Linked DNA regions of Homo sapiens: all the other regions are linked to region 1. Evidence: fine-mapped expression QTL. A gene starts in region 1. Each other region holds a variant in brackets. All regions are shown on one strand. Distances are between the middles of the regions.

What was found. PIP is the estimated chance that this variant, and not a neighbour inherited with it, causes the effect.
Region 2: its variant is the best candidate, but not a certain one, in a credible set for the expression of ARIH1 in whole blood (INTERVAL, PIP 0.84).
Region 3: its variant is the best candidate, but not a certain one, in a credible set for the expression of ARIH1 in whole blood (TOPMed, PIP 0.84).

What each region holds. Positions count from the first base shown.
Region 1 is chr15:72,471,157-72,476,533 of GRCh38, reverse strand. It overlaps ARIH1 (ariadne RBR E3 ubiquitin protein ligase 1), which reads right to left and starts at 2,204. Exons shown (of 14, transcript NM_005744.5): 1 at 1,520-2,204. The coding sequence starts at 1,894. TMEM202-AS1 (TMEM202 antisense RNA 1) reads left to right here and starts at 2,295. Exons shown (of 4, transcript NR_135678.1): 1 at 2,295-2,659. RefSeq lists enhancers at 1,081-1,290, 2,741-2,840 and silencers at 1,841-2,070, 2,113-2,309, 2,161-2,500.
Region 2 is chr15:72,540,100-72,545,476 of GRCh38, reverse strand. ARIH1 (ariadne RBR E3 ubiquitin protein ligase 1) reads right to left here. Exons shown (of 14, transcript NM_005744.5): 3 at 513-657. Among named protein-coding and RNA genes, the nearest start is that of MIR630, 44 kb to the left of the region's middle. RefSeq lists a silencer at 4,273-4,473. The variant C/T (reference allele first, on the strand shown) is at 2,803.
Region 3 is chr15:72,594,110-72,599,486 of GRCh38, reverse strand. It overlaps ARIH1 (ariadne RBR E3 ubiquitin protein ligase 1), which reads right to left. Exons shown (of 14, transcript NM_005744.5): 14 at 1-5,377. Among named protein-coding and RNA genes, the nearest start is that of MIR630, 9.6 kb to the right of the region's middle. The variant TC/C (reference allele first, on the strand shown) is at 2,373.

The DNA.
Region 1 (5,377 bases):
AATTAGCTGAGCATGGTGGAGCGCGCCTGTAGTACCAGCTACTTGGGAGGCCGAGGCAGGAGAATTGCATGAACCCGGCAGGCGGAGGTTGCAGTGAGCAGAGATTGCGCCATTGCACTCCAGCCTGGGCGACAAAGCAAGACTCCGTCTCAAACAAACAAAAAATTATCTTCTACAATCCTCAACTTCCTTCTTAGACTGTGTTCTCTAGATTAAAAATGAAGACTTCCACTATTTAGTAATGGCACTAGATATCAGAGATTTTTCTATTATGCAAAACACTGTATTGAAACAGTGCCTGAATAGATGCTTCAATTTTTAAAACTGTTACTTATAATACTATAAAAATCAGTTAATAATAGAAAGTCAACGAGTTGACAGTGACATACTTCTAATTTGTCAATGAATATTTAGCCAACCAATTTAAGTTAAACAAAAAAGAAATAATACTGATAAAAGAGGCAATAGTAACTTGCTGCTCATATATGTTTCCTTCCAGGTTTTCTAAAAATTGCACTGAATCAAGCTTCATTTTTATTCTTCAGCCATATCCCTGACTCCTCAGGAGAACTGAGGTTTTTTTTTTCCCCAAATGAAAACTTTTGAGTTTCTAAAGCTCAAAAATGCAAAATCTGACGCACATGGTTAAATGAGATGTGGTTATCAACTTACACCAAGCCTAACTTACCACAAAATAGAAAATATCAGAGAAAGGAGTTCACAAGCAGAAAACCTCTGCTTTCTAACTCACAATAGAGTCTTGTCCAATATTAGACAACACTGCGTTTTGTTGTTGTTTTAGCTACAAGGAAGGGTATGCAATATGCAGTAACTATTCCAACAGCTTCAAGCAAGTCATCTGCTACGACTAGAAAAAGTAGCAATTAGGTCCCAAACAGCAAAGACATAAAAAAGATGTAAGCAGAAGCCTCACCATCTGAAAAGAAGGCCCATCAGCACCTCTTCCGAGAAATACTTCCCTTCCCCCACCTTTAAGTAGGCACTTGAGACTGCCAAGATCCATTTCTTTATTAACTGGTGCCCACTTGGGGCAACTGTACACCAAGCTGCTCTTAGGCCTACTCTAATCCCTTCCAAAAGTGCTCAAATGAGGCTACGGCCGGGGTAAGTCCCGTCAGGGCCCAATTCTTCCTGACTCCTCTTCTCCACCCCACCTCCTCCGCCCCGCCCCAGTAGGCGATCGCCCGGCCAGAGAAAGGACACCCGGCCCAGGGACTGGCAGAAATTGCCCGCAAGAGAAGGCTTAGGCGACCGAAGGCCTCCGCCATAGCAGGACTTGGGAAGCACCGCCCCCAGCGCACCTCCCCACACCCGGCTAATCGGCGAACCTCTGCTTTCGACACCCTCTATCCCCAGCAGAGGCAGCGGAGAAGACAAGGCCGGGAGGCACCGGGCTAGGCTGCGCACCAGGCCCAGGCCTGTCCCTCGGGACCGCGCGTGCCGCCTGAATCCGCTCCCCCGTCGGGCCCGGTCCAGCTGGCGCGGCGGCCACCCTCACCTGGATGACCTCGTTGACCTCCCGGATACATTCCACCATGTGTTGTAGAATCTGCTCGGCCGTGAGCACCTCGTAGCGGTAATCCTCCTCCTGCTCATGCCCCGGCCCGCCACCACCACCGCCGCCGCCGCCGCCGCCGCCACCGCCGGGCCCCAGAGCGCTGCCGCCGCCACCGCCCGTCTCCCCGCACAGCAGTCCGTCCCGCTCCCCGCCGACGCCCAGCCCGGGCTCCACCAGCTCCACCTCGCCCAGATCCAGGGTATCATCGTCCGGCTCGTCGTCGTCTTCGTCCTCCTCCTCCTCGGCGCCGCTGTCCTCCTCACTGCACTCCTCGTCCTCGTCGAACTCGTAGTTGTAGCCCTCGTCCGAGTCCATGGCGCGACGCGCGGGGGCCCGGCGGACGCTGGCCGAGGCGGGGAGAGGGCGGGGACGCCGAGGCCCCGGCTCTCGCTCCGGCTCCGGCTGATGTCCGGACGCAGGCCTGGCTCCGGCCCCGCGAGCCGCGGCTCCTCCCCAGGAGCGGCGGTTGGCGTTTGACGGCTGGTGGCGGCGGGGAGGGCGCGGAGGAGGGAGGGAGGGAGCGAGGGGGCCGCTTGCTGCCCGCCTCAGTCAGACGCGGCTCCGCTCCGGCCTCCGAGAGAAAACAGTCCCCAACGCCACCTCCACGGCCGCTGCTATCGCTACTGAGCCAACAAAGGGGCGTGCGTCACCGCGTCGCGCTGCGTCGTCGCGTCACTCCTCTTTGCGTCACTGCGCCCCGCCCCACCGCCCCTGCGTGGAGCCCGGGGAGACCCCACGGCCCGGCCTTCCTGGGCCTGGGACCCGAGGGGAGCCGAGCGGGAATTGCTTTCCTGGTTCGATCCGCTGCCGCTGTGAGGGCCGAGCGGAAACCCGTAGACCTTTTATGTGAAGAGATTGCGGCCTCCTGGTCACCAGTCACCGAGAGAGGGACCCCTGGACCGCCTACGTGGTGGTGTCTGCCGCAGGCCATAGGGATCCAGCCCACTTAGGCAGTCCCTTGGGGACGCGGCCTTCCCTCCGGAGCGGAAAGGCGCTTCCCGCCCGCCCTGCGGTAATCCCGGAAGCCCTCAGCCGTTAAGCTAAAATTTCTGTTGCTTTGGCTACTGATGGAAACCTGTTGTAAGTGGAACCTCTAAACTGTATGACAGGTGAACCCACTTTAGGTAGCTGTGTGATTCTGTCCACTTGTACAGACGTGCAGTGGTTTTTAAGTCTCCTATAATGACGTCATTTTAAAGAGGCATTTCCTCCACCCCGCTGACAAGAGCGCCTCTTGAGGGCCCTAAACAATGTAAACAGCGATGATTTTCATGAATTGAGCACTGTGTAAGGGCTTTACATATATTCTGTCTCATCTTCACGGAGCCATAGTACCCATTTTATACCTGAGGAACCTGAAGCTCAGAAAGGAAAAGGGACCTGGCCAAGACCACATAACCCTTGCCCTATTTTAACCGCTGGATGCCCCAAAACATGAATCATAAAAATGCTTTGTAATGTAGATATATTATGTACTATGTAGTACATAAAAGACATGAATGCTTCAACAAAATACAGGCAATAATAGAAATATCTACAAGGGCCAAATGTAGCCAGAGAGATAATGCTTGAATCTCATCTGAAAGTGTGCTATGTGAGCTGAGTGTTGATGAATGGCTAGGAGTTCAACAGAGAAGGTAGGGAAGATGGTCTAGCCGCAGAGAACAAGCAAAAGCGCAGAAGGTGTCAAGTAAGTAATAGTTTGGGGAGCTTAAAGTGCATGGAGGGTACATGGCAAAATATTAGGCAAGTTAGTCAGGGGTCATGTCAGTTAAGAGCATTTTATGCCTAAGAGTGGGCTTAAATCTTTGCAAACAGGACATGCGAGCCAGAGAAGTGTTATGAAGGAAGAAGAGGCATAAGAAGGCTCCCTCTTGAGATAATCTGAAGAATTGGCCAGATTGAAAACCTTTTAAAATCAAAACCCCTGATTTGTTGATAAATCTTACTGTTCAACCTATAGGTTCCCTTTGGAAATTGATTTTGAAAAGTGAAAAATTCCATTATAATGTTAAAAAGCCTCTTCCAATTTGTCCATTTTGTAAGTTTTAAAATACCGATAATTATATTTCTTAACCTCAGGATTTACAAAGTAAAGCATTTAACCTCAATACTGGTAGTCTAGGTTTTTGTTGTTGTTGTTGTTGTTTGTTTTTTTCTTGAGACGGAGTCTCGCTCTGTTGCCCAGATTGGAGTACAGTGGTGATCTCAGCTCACTGCAGCCTCTGCCTCCCAGGTTCAAGCGATTCTCCTGTCTCAGCCTCCTGAGTAGCTGGGACTACAGGCGCATGCCACCACCCCAGGCTAATTTTTGTATTTTTAGTAGAGATGGGGTTTCACCATATTGGCCAGGCTGGTCTCGAATTCCTGACTTCAGGTGATCCACCTGCCTCGGCCTCCCAAAGTGCTGTGATAACAGGCATAAGCCACAGCGCCCAGCCAGGTCTAGGTTCTTTGATTCAGTGTTTCTATTTAGCAATTCTAGATTGCTGCCACAACTAAGGCAAGCCATGGACACAAGGAACACTTCTGTCCACCCCGTCTCCATTGTGATATTACCTACAGAAAAATTCAGTAACACTCGTCAGTACCCTAAACTCCTTTGCCTCACCTTTCTTTTCATTGTACCCCTATCTTGAATGAACCCTACCATCCATAGTCTCCACTTTGATAAATGGAGCAGCTGACCACTATTAGAGAAATGTGCATAGCCATCTGTATTCTATTACTACATTTCTTCTTTTTTTTTTTTTTTTTGGAGACACTCTTGCTCTGGCACCCAGGCTGGAATGCAGTGGTGCGATCACCACTGAAGGCTCAATGTCCCGGGCTCAAGTGATCCTCCCACTTCAGCCTCCTGAGTTGCTGGTACTACAGGTGCACACCACCATACCTGGCTAATTTTTTATTTTTTTTTACAGATACATCTCACTATGTTGCTCAGACTGGTCTGGAACTCCTGGCCTCAAGCAATCCTCCCACCTTGGCCTCCCAAAATGCTAGGATTACAGGTGTGAGCCACTACACCCAGCCTACTTAATTTCAATCACCAAGCACAACTCAACCTTCAATAATTCCCAGCAATCCTATTAAATTTTTCTGGATTGTTCTCCCACTCTCGACAACTCTTTCACACCTTTGCAGTTTCCTCAAACTTCAGCCCTGCCCTTTCACATCTTCTCAAAACATGTGACTTTTAGTCACAGAGGAATTTGAAAATATCAGGACCAATGTGACTTGAGACATGCTGAGCAAAGAAGAGGGTGTTAAGGGATAAAGTCAGAGAAAGCAGATCAAGGTAGGGGGCCAGTAGGGGCCTTGTAGGTCATCTTAAGAAGTTTACATTATTCCAGTGGCAATTATTAACGAGTTTTAAGCAGAAGAGTGAAACTATATGATCTGTGTTTTTAAAAAGATAACTGACTGCTTTATGGTGAATGGACTACGAAAACAAAGCAATTATGAGGCTATCTCAGTAGTCCAGGTAAGTAGATAATAGCCTGAACTAGGGTTGTGGCAGTGGAGGTGATAAGAAGTGGTCAGATTGAGATAGAATTTGAAAGAAGAGCCAAAATATTTGCTGGTGGCTTGACAGTGGGTTTGATGGAGGAAACAAGGATGCCTACTGTATTTGGAGCTTGAGCGACTGGGTGAATGGTGGCATCACTCACTGAAACATGTTATTTGAGGTGCTCGTTAGACATCAGGGTAGAGGTGTTGAGTAGGCAGTTCCATAAACTAAGATACAAGACTGAAGGTCAGGAAAAATTAGAGCTGGAGATACAATTTTACCAGAGT
Region 2 (5,377 bases), 69 kb before region 1:
GCTATATCACTGGTTCTGCTCCAACTCTGTCCCCACATACCATATTTAACAATCTCCATTTGAATGGATTTGATTAAGTGAAAATCTTATCTTCTGAAGAATTCTGAGAGTTCCCTAGCAAATAGTATTAACGGTATTTTATGAGTGTTTCTGGATATTTAAAAAACACTTAAAGTTTAAATCTATTTTAATTTGGATGAGAAAGAATTCTACTTACTGCCTACTATTACACAATTCTCCCATGGTGATAGAATAAACTCCAGAAAGATTTAGGTCTATAAATGACAACTTGGACAAGTTGTTGCTGCTTTAAAAAACAAATGGGGGTTGGAGGTAAGAGGAACCAAGCTTTTACTCTTTTTCTTCCTTTCCTCACACTGAATACATTGATAGGTTATGGCTTAGAGGTTACTACTCCCAGACCCACAAATTTTCCTTTGTTTAAATAATGGAAGTTGATTTACCCTCTGAAATACAAAGTCAGCACTAGCCTTAAACTACCAGATACTCACCGAGTTAGGGTAGTTCAAGTAGCAGATCTGACAAGGCATATCCTGTGCTGATGACCTTGTATTCATCTGGCGTGTTCGAGACTTTTTACTTGGATTAATTACATGACACTCAGCAAAGAGCTTCTCCAGGTTTCCATCAAAGTACCTGCATTATTTAAACAGAAAGGATAAGAGCCCAGCAACTTGCACACTGTTAGAGCTCTCCAAAAACCTGACTTTCTATAGGGAAAAGCAAGAAGTTGAATTAAAATAAAACAAGATAACAACCTTTTTATTCAGAGGAAATAAAAGCTACATGGTACAAATTATAGCAAATAAAGGTGTGTGTATACATGTGCATATATATATATATTGCAAACAGCAAAAATTCAGTCTACTCTCATATATATGAGTGTGTGTGTGTGTGTGTGTATGTATGTAAACTAGTAGACTGAGTTTTGCTGCCTTTTTCCCCCTAAACTTTGGTTTTAAATAACTGAATCTTGGGAAATTAAGCTATTAGTATTTTAACAGTACTGCAACTAAAACTTAAGGATTAAAGTTGTGCTGTTGCTGGGGTACCTATGAAGAGTAATATTTTACATGGGTAGGCTGTATTTTATACAAATGAATTCATTTTATTAATAATTTTAGTTAAAGCAATTTAAACATATTAGCTTCAGTAAAGCATTTATCTTACTGCACAAATCATCTTAAAAATATAATTATTACGTGTCTCATTTTACATAATAGACTTGCTTTCTAAACATTATTTTGAAATATTTTTAATTTACTGAGAAAGGAGGAGGAATAAAACAAAGAAGTGTATCTTCAAACATTTTATATAAAATAAATTACATATTAGCTTTTCATAAAATATGTATCTAAATATAGAGTAGTTCCATATCTAAGACATCAAGAGTATATATATGCCAAGTACTACCTAGAGTTTTAACTAAATAGCAAACCTCTGGACAGAAGATAGTAGAGCAGACCTTAAGGTGGGTTGAGGTGGTTAAGATAACAGTAAATACTTAGCACAATGTTTCCAATTAATTCAGATGAGACATGTTCCCTGGCCTCCTGAAACAGCTTACTATTCAAAAGGGAAAAGCAATAGATATTAAAAAAAAAAAAACTTTTCAATCTGTAAAACCAATATAACCAGCAAAAATATTAATGTGCAATCTGGTCAATTACTTTTTGGGTTGTAAAGCCCAGATTACAGTAACTATAATGCTCTTTATATACAAACAGGAGATTTTCAATTTTAAAAGTAATCAATACTCAAAAGAAATTTCCAATATTTTTAATTAAGGTCTTGTTTAGGCTTTGTGTCAAAGGCTACTATATCTTACTGTACCTCCAGAAAAATCATTCAAATGAGAACAAACCATATCACTTCTCCTAAGACTAATAAATAAATATCTTTTTTATAAATACTTTGACTACAGCATAGTTCAATGAAATAATCATATTATCAATCGAAATGCCAACACATTATAAAAAGGAGGATTATCAGAAAGTTAAAAGTTGTCAGGAACTCATACAAATAGAAAATTAATGTCTCTGATGATTCAGATAATCAGAATATATTTAAAGCAGAAAATCAAATGCTTTCCTACAATTTTGAGACAGTCTCACTCTGTCGCCCAGACTGGAGTGCAGTGGCGCCATCTCGGCTCCCTGCAACCTTTGCCGCCCAGGTTCAAGCGATTCTACTGCCTCAGCCTCCCGAGTAGCTGGGATTACAGGCGCCGCGGTGGCTCACACCTGCAATCCCAGCACTTTGGGATGCTGAGGTGGGTGGATCACTTGAGGTCAGTAGTTCAAAACCAGCCTGGCCAACATGGTGAAACCCCATCTCTACTAAAAATACAAAAAAATTAGCTGGGCGCGGTGGCAGGTGCCTCTAATCCCAGCTACTCAGGAGGGTGAGGCATGAGAACCGCTTGAATCCAGGAGGCAAGGTTGCAGTGAGCCAAGATGGTGCCACTGCACTGCACTCTAGCCTGGGTGACAGAGCGAGACTGTCTCAAATTTAAAAAAAAAAAAAAAGATAATATAAAATACCAAGTTTTACCTGAAAAACTGAAAGCATAAGAGATTAACACTAAATATCAATTCATAAACCAGCTAAACACCTTGTTTTATAAAAATATTCATGCTCCCAAGACAAGACAAACTTCTGTCATCCAAAATTTGACAACAGGGAACTAATGACTCTCATACTTTGGTTAACATTCTAGACAGCATTCTATGAGTATACAGCCACACAGACATGTGTCCCTAATTTCATATAAGTAACACC[C/T]TAGTCCAGATTTATAACCTGCTTTTTTCACTAGACAATATCTAACAGACACCTTTGTCTTTAAATGTCTACATTTTTCATTTTTGCACAATATTCCACTGTAGTTATTTACTATAATATATCCAACCAATGTTATTCTGAAGGACATTTAAATGTGCCACATATAAATAATCCTAGATTAAAATCTTAGCCCATCAGATAGGGAAAAATACCTAGACTTAACTTGTATTTATTTATTTATTAGTGAAGGTGAACACATTTTTCTGTGGTGATCTTATTCCCTATTAAGTTCAGTATGCAAAGAGGAAGAGTAAATCTTTGTTTCATGGGTTGCTTTCTTTCATTTCTTTCTTGTCTTTCAACCTTCTTTAATAGTGTTTAATTACCACTTTAAAATTTTTATGTAGGCACATTTATCGTGCTACTCCACTGTGATTTCTGCAGTTCATATCACACTTTAAAAGACCTCTATACCCAAAGATTTTTTAATGGAAATTCATTAATGATTTAGATCTCACCTTTAAATTGTTTCCATTAAAACTGTTGATTTATTTTTGCGTAATAAGGAGTAAAGCCAGGATTCCATTTCATTTCAATCCAAAAATCTAATCACTTATTGAAGGGTTGTTTCATCTATTGGAAACACTTTTTCCCACCTTTAGGTTCCAGCTTACACCCAGCTTCCTCAAATAACTGATCTCTGACAGCTCCTCACTTCCACCCCCATTAGATAAGGTTCCCTTGAATTACATCCCATTGTTACTCTGCAGTCCTTTGCAGCACTTACAACATTACTAACTGTAATCACTCTTTATGTTTGCTCTGCTAGAATGTAAACCCCATGAGGACTACTTTATTATTCCTGGAGCCCTTAATGTCTACAGGCATGTTACAAGCACTTAGTTTCTTCTTAAAGAGTAACTGACTAATCTAACTCTCCCCACTGATCTGTTCACTATATACCCAAATTTCCTATTTAGACAAGTTTATTCCTGGACTCTCCATTCTATTCCACTAATTTGTCTGCTCTTGTAGTCGATAAATTCTCAATATTTGACAAAGATCCCTTTATCATTCTTCTCACAGAATTTTCTCTGTTCTTCCATATTTGTTTTTTCAAGTTAAGTACAATCATTAATTTTTTTTTCAAATCCTCTTGGAACTTTTACTACAATTATATCAAGAGTAAACTGACTGAAAGAATTGACTCTATAATATTGTCTTCCTAGCCAAGAACAAAGTATCTTTTAATTTACTTAATTCCAATTCCTATTCAGTCTCTCAATAGTTTTATAACTTTTTTTCACTATGTGGATCCTGCACATCTTCCAGTAACTTTATTCTCAGGTATTTCAAGTTCTTTTTGTTGGGAGAAAAGCTGAGTGTCGGGAGAGAAGCTGAGGCAGGGCTTGCATGCCTGCTAGACTGCTGGCTCCTTACTTCTAGCACTCCCATTATCTCAACTAGCCATATGTTTCAAAGAAAATGCTAAACCCTCACAGCTGTAGCTCATTCGCTTGATACACCGCTTCCTTTTAACCCCCACATCCTCACCACCTGTTTCTTTGTTTGATCACCAATAAATAGCGTGGGCTCCCAGAGCTCCAGGCCTTCGCAGCCTCCATACTAGCGTTGGCCCCCTGGTCCCACTTTGTCTCTTGTCTTTTCTCATTCCTTTGACTCCGCTGGACTTTGTCGCCCCCACAGCCTGGTGTTGGGTCCGATCACATCAACACTTTTACTATCAATCTGAATTCCTGTGCTTTAGATAGCATGTACTGGAGTTTGCAGCATTTTTAAAAATAGCGTATATTGGAGTTAATACCTTTTTTAAAAAAAATGAGTTAGGGTCTCACTATGTTGCCCAGGCTGGTGCACAGCAGTTTTTCACATATGCAATAATAGCATACAGCCTTGAACTCTTGGCCTCAAGAGATCCTCTCGCCTCACCTTCTTGAGTATAGGTGGGACTATACGTGCACACCACTACATGTGGCTTGGAGTTTATAGCTTTTTGATCCATTCTAGAAGCCACCAAAGGAACTTTCAAATACTGCTAAGTATTTTAAATGAAATATGAGTGGGAAGCTAAAAATCCACTCATATTCTTGGGGGTAGTAGGCCCAGAAATCTTTTTCTTTTACCAAAGTTTCATGTATTTGTTCTGATCTGTATTTATTATATGGTCCATTCACCCCTGACTCCACAATGTTTATTTGGAAATTACTAAAATCTAATTTAGTTTTACTAGGAGTGGCCTATGTAATTAATACTTAAATACATTTCTTAATTTATAAAACTTAAATAATACATTGATCATCCCTTTGGTTTTGGTCAGAACTTCCTAAAGCTCTTCCCAGTTGATTACAGTTTTATATAATTTTTTCACTAATTTTTTTTTTTTTTTTTTTTTTTTGAGACAAAGTCTCGCTCTTGTCACCCAGGCTGGAGTACAATGGTGCAATCTCGGCTCACTGCAACCTCCGCCTCCCAGGTTCAACCGATTCTCCTGCCTCAGCCTCCCAAGTACCTGGGACTACAGGCGCCTGCCACCACGCCCAGCTAATTTTTGTAT
Region 3 (5,377 bases), 120 kb before region 1:
CAGTTTGGAAAAGAAAACACAACCAACTGGTAAGATATTTGTCTCTGTGGAGGGAGTAGAGGCACTAGGGGAGTTAAGATGGGAAGGTGTTGCTTTTCTTTATGATTCTACAAAATTTAACTTTGTATTATCCATGTACTTTTACTTTTGAAAACAGTTAATGAGGCCAGGAGCGATGGCTCACACCTGTAATCCCAGCACTTTGGGAGGCTGAGGCGGGTGGATCAACTGAGGTCAGGAGTTGGAGACCAACCTGGCCAACATGGTGAAACCCTGTCTCTACTAAAAATACAAAAATTAGCTGGGTGTGGTGGCGGGCGCCTGTAATCCCAGCTACTCAGGAGGCTGAGTCACGAGAATCACGAGGCAGAGGTTGCAATGAGCCTAGATCGTGCCACTGCACTCCAGCCTGGGCAACAGAGCCAGACTCTGTCTCAAAAAAGAAAAAAATACTAGCTAATGAAATATGTAAATAAAACCATTGTTTAAACTCCCATTCCTAACCAGGCATGGTGGCTCATGCCTTTAATCCCAGCACTTTGGAAAACCAAGGTGGGAGGATCACAGGCAACATAGCGAGACCCAAACTCTACAAAAAAAAAAAAGCCAGGCATGGTGGCACATGACTGTGGTCCCAGCTACTCAAGAGGCTGAGGCAAGAGGATCACTTGAGCCCAGAAGGTCAAGCCAGCAGTGAGCTATGATCATGTCATGGCACTCAAGCCTGGGTGGCAGTGAGACGTGTTTAAAAAAAAATTTTTTTTTTTTTTTTTGAGAGGGAGTCTTGCTCTGTCACCCAGGCTGGAGTGCAGTGGCACAATCTCGGCTCACTGCAACCTCCGCCTCCCAGGTTCAAGCAAATCTCCTGACTCAGTCTCTCAAGTAGCTGGGATTACAGGCGCCCACCACCACACCTGGCTAATTTTAGTATTTTTAGTAGAGTTGGGGTTTCACTATGTTGGCCAGGCTGGTCTCAAACTCCTGATCTCAGGTGATCCACCTGCCTCGGCCTCCCAAAGTGCTGGGATTACAGGCATGAGACACTGTGCCTGACCTAAAAAAATTTTTTATTAAAAAAATAAACTCCTACTTCTGAAATTCACTAGTGATATGAACAAAGTCACAAGGAATATACCTCCCACTCTAGCAAACAACAACAAAAGGCCAGATGAGCTAGAAAATAAAACATATGTTTAATTCATCAGAAAGCTAAGGACACAAAGAAATCTAGGTTGGGTGCAGTGGTTTATGCCTGTAACCCCAGGACTTTGGGGTGCTGAGGCAGGCAGATCGCTTGAGCTCAGAAGTTTGAGATCAGCCTGGGCAACATGGTAAAACCCTATCTCAACAAAAAATACAAAAATTAGCCGGGTGTGGTGGTACACGCCTGTAGTCCCAGCTGCTCAGGAGGCTGAGGTGGGAGGATCAACTGAGCCAGGAAGGCAGAGGTTGTAGTGAGCTGAGATCACTACAGGCTGTACTCCAGGCTGGGTAAGAGTGAGACCCTGTCTCAAAATAAAAACAAAAACCAAAGAAACCTAAATGATCCAAACTCCAGAAAGTGCCAAGTCCTTCATAGGAGAGAAGAGACCCCCTAGCTGTTGTTATTCCTAGTTGAACTATGGTAGGAAGAGGAATACTACAGGGGGGAGAAAAGAGAAACCTGCTGAAATTTAACAACATTTTCACAACCCCTTGGAGGCTGGTTTGACATTAGAACCTAGATGACCCAAATCCACAGAGGAAGGCTTCCCACCAATCTTACCCCTTAGATGATAACCAGGTACAGGAAGGTGTAGTACACTAAAGGTGTGGATAATAGAAGGAACGCTGAGAGAGCTTGACTTCTCCCAAGGGCAAAATACCCTTTAAAAATGAAAGGGGAGGCAGGATTGTTGTGAAATCCAACAGAGGCACTCTTGGAGCCTAAATGGGGTCAGAAATGCTGAGAAACCCATCCCCTAGGCATTGTGGGCATTCCTCTACAAAAGGGCAGGGCACACATGAGAGCTGAGAAAGATCCTCCTATCCCCAGCCCATTGATTAAAAAAAAAAATCCTGGCAGCAAGGTTGTAAAGTAGGGAAAGATCTCCCACATTGATAAAAGCTGGTGGCTTAGCTATGAAGCAAAGTCAGATCTCTGGAATCTTGCCAATGCCCAAAACTCAGGCCCTGGTGATATGAGAGTTCTGATTCTACGTTCCTTCAAATATTTGAAGCTAGAGGCAAACTGAATCAAACTAAAACTGCAGTGAAGCCCCAGTCTAGAATTCATATACATCAGATTGAGCCACCATTCAAGTGGCCTGAAAAAAAAACAAAGGGCATGCTCTGTTTTGGAAGTAAACATTTTCTTCAATTTCTTTTTTTTT[TC/C]AACATAAAACGTCCATCATCCAATCAAATATACAAGACGTGCAAAAGCAAGAAAATAAGATTCATGGTAAGGGAGAGGAAGGGCTCAATAGAAGCAGAACTAGAAAAGACCCAGATGTTGAATTATCAGTTTGGATCCTTAAAATAACTGATTAAAAATGAAAGAAAAAACAGAAAAAACCCAATAAAATAACTGATTAAAATGCTAAAAAGTAGAATGGAAAATGTGGAAAACATGCATGAAGAAATAGGAAATTTCAGCAGAAAATTGTAACTATACAAATATAATGAAATGCTAGAAATAAAAATATTAGAAATGAATAATTCAGTACAACTATGTATCCATAAATAACTAAAAATAAAAATTTTTAAATGGAGAATTCAATAAACAAGTTTAACAGGTTAACATTGGAAAGCATCAAAAAACTTAAAGATGGTTAAATGGAAAGTATCCAAACTGAAAACAAAAAGAAAACAGGGCAGGGGAAAAATCATCTGAGATCTGTAGGTTTATATCAAATCATCTAATATACATGTAACTAGAATCTCCAAAGAAGAGGAGAAGCAAGAGAGTATGAGACAAGAGAAAAATGTAAACGGATAACGGCCAAGAAAGAACCAATATTAATGAAAGACATCAACACAGATCCAAGAAGTTCAGTAAACTCTATACAAAGAAAAACATACCTAGACATTCCCTAGTCAATCTACTGAAAAGTAAATATAATGCACAGATGCAGCCATTGAGAACAACCACACATTACGGAAAGGAAATAAAAATTAAAATGATGAATGACTTCTCACCAGAAACAAATGAGGCCTGAGTACAATAAAATAACTTCTTTAAAGTACTGAAAGAAGAAATAAAAGGTCAACATAGAGTCCTATATCCAACTAAAATACCCCTCAAAAATAAAAGTAAGGACATTCTCTTATAGACAAAAGCTGAGAGAACTCATCTCTTATTAAAAACTGCAGTAGGGCCAGGCGTAGTAGCCCTACTACGCCTAGTGACCTGTAATCCCAGCACTTTGGGAGGCCAAGGTGGGCAGATCACCTGAGGCCAGGAGTTCAAGACCAGCCTGGCCAATATGGTGAAACCCCGTTTCTACTAAAAATATAAAAGTTAGCTGAGCTTGGTGACATGTGCCTATAATCCCACTTACTTGGGAGGCTGAGGCAGGAGAATCGCTTAAACCTGGGAGGCGGAGGTTGCAGATTGCACCACTGCACCACAGCCTGGGAGATAGAGCAAGACTCAGTCTCAAAAAAACAAAAACAAAGATGAAAAAAAAAAAAAAAAAACAGAAAAAACAAAAAACACTGCAATAGGCTGGGCACTGTGTCTCATGCCTGTAATGCCAACACTTCGGGAGTGCAAGGCAGGAAGATCACTTGAGCCTAGCAGTTCCAGATCAATCTGGGCAACATATCAAGACTCCATGTCTACAAAAATGAAAAAGAAAAATTAGCCAGCTGTGGTAGCGCACACCTGTGGTCCCAGCTACTCGGGAGGCTGAGGCAGGATGATTGCTGGAGCCAAGAAAGTTGAGGCTGCAGTGAGCCACGTTCATGCCACCACACTCCAGCCTGCGTGACAGAGACCCTGTCTCAAAACAAAAACAAAAACAGTCCATGAGAGCCAAGTGTGGTGGCTCACACCTCTAATCCCAGCACTGTAGGAGGCCAAGGCAGGAGGATTGCTTGAGGCCAGGAGTTTGAGACCATCATGGGCAACACGGCAAGATCTACAAAAAATTTCTTAAATTTGCCTGGTGTGGTGACATGCACCTGTATTCCTAGCTACTCAGGAGGCTGAGGCAGGAGGGTCGCTTGAGTCCAGGAGCTCAAGGCTGCAGTGAGCTATGATCATGTCATTGCACTCCAGCCTGGCAGCCTGAGCAAAAGAGTGAGACTGTCTCTAAAACAGCAACAACAAAACTGTCCATGGGCTGGATCTGGCCCATGGGCCACAGTTTGCCAACCCCTGTAACATACCATCTTAACAAAATAAAAAGAGAAATACATAATAATCTTATTAAAAGCTAAAAACGCATCTCACAAAATTTAATAACCCTTCCTAATAAAAATTATCAACAAATTAGGAATAGAAAGGAACTTCTTTGGGCTGGTCTGTGAAAAACTTACAGTTAACATTATACTTAGTGATGAAACATTAAAATCTTTATCCCTAAGATTAAGAAAACAAGGCAAGGTGTCTGCTCTCACCACACGTTAAACATTGCACTAGATATTGTAGCCAGTGGAGAAAGACAAAAAAAAAAAAAAAAAAAAAAAAAAAGAAGAAAAGGCATAAAATCAGAAAAAGAAGTAAAAACATTATTTGCAGACTACACTGTTGTGTATCTATTTAATATAAAACTCTACGGAGTCTACAAGAACTATTTCTAGAATAAATGAATTTAGCAAGGTGGCACGATTCAAGATCAGCATACAAAAATCAGCCAGGCACACTGGCACGTGAATAAAGTCCCAGCTACTTGGGTGGCTGAGGCATGAGAATCCCTTGAGCTCAGGAGTTTAAGACCAACCTGGGCAACATAGTGAGACCCATCTCTAAAGAAACAAACAAAAAATCAATTGTATTTCTAGATACTAGCAGCAAACAACTTAAAAATGAAAATTAGCCAGGCGCGGTGGCTCACGCCTGTAATGGCAGCACTTTGGGAGGCCAAGGTGGTTGGATCACGAGGTCAGGAGCTCGAGACCAGGCTGACCAACATGGTGAAACCCCGTCTGTACTAAAAATACAAAAATTAGCCAGGCATGATGGTGTGTGCCTATAATCCCAGCTACTCAAAAGGCTGAGGCAGGAGAATTGCTTGAACCCGGGAGGCGGAGGTTGCAGTGAGCCAAGATCGCGCCACTGCACTCCAGCCTAGCCAACAAGAGCAAAACTCCGTCTCAAAAAAAAAAAAAGAAAAAAAGAAAAAGAAAAGAAAATCAAAAATATTTTAAAAATCAAATGCTTAAGAAAAAGTCT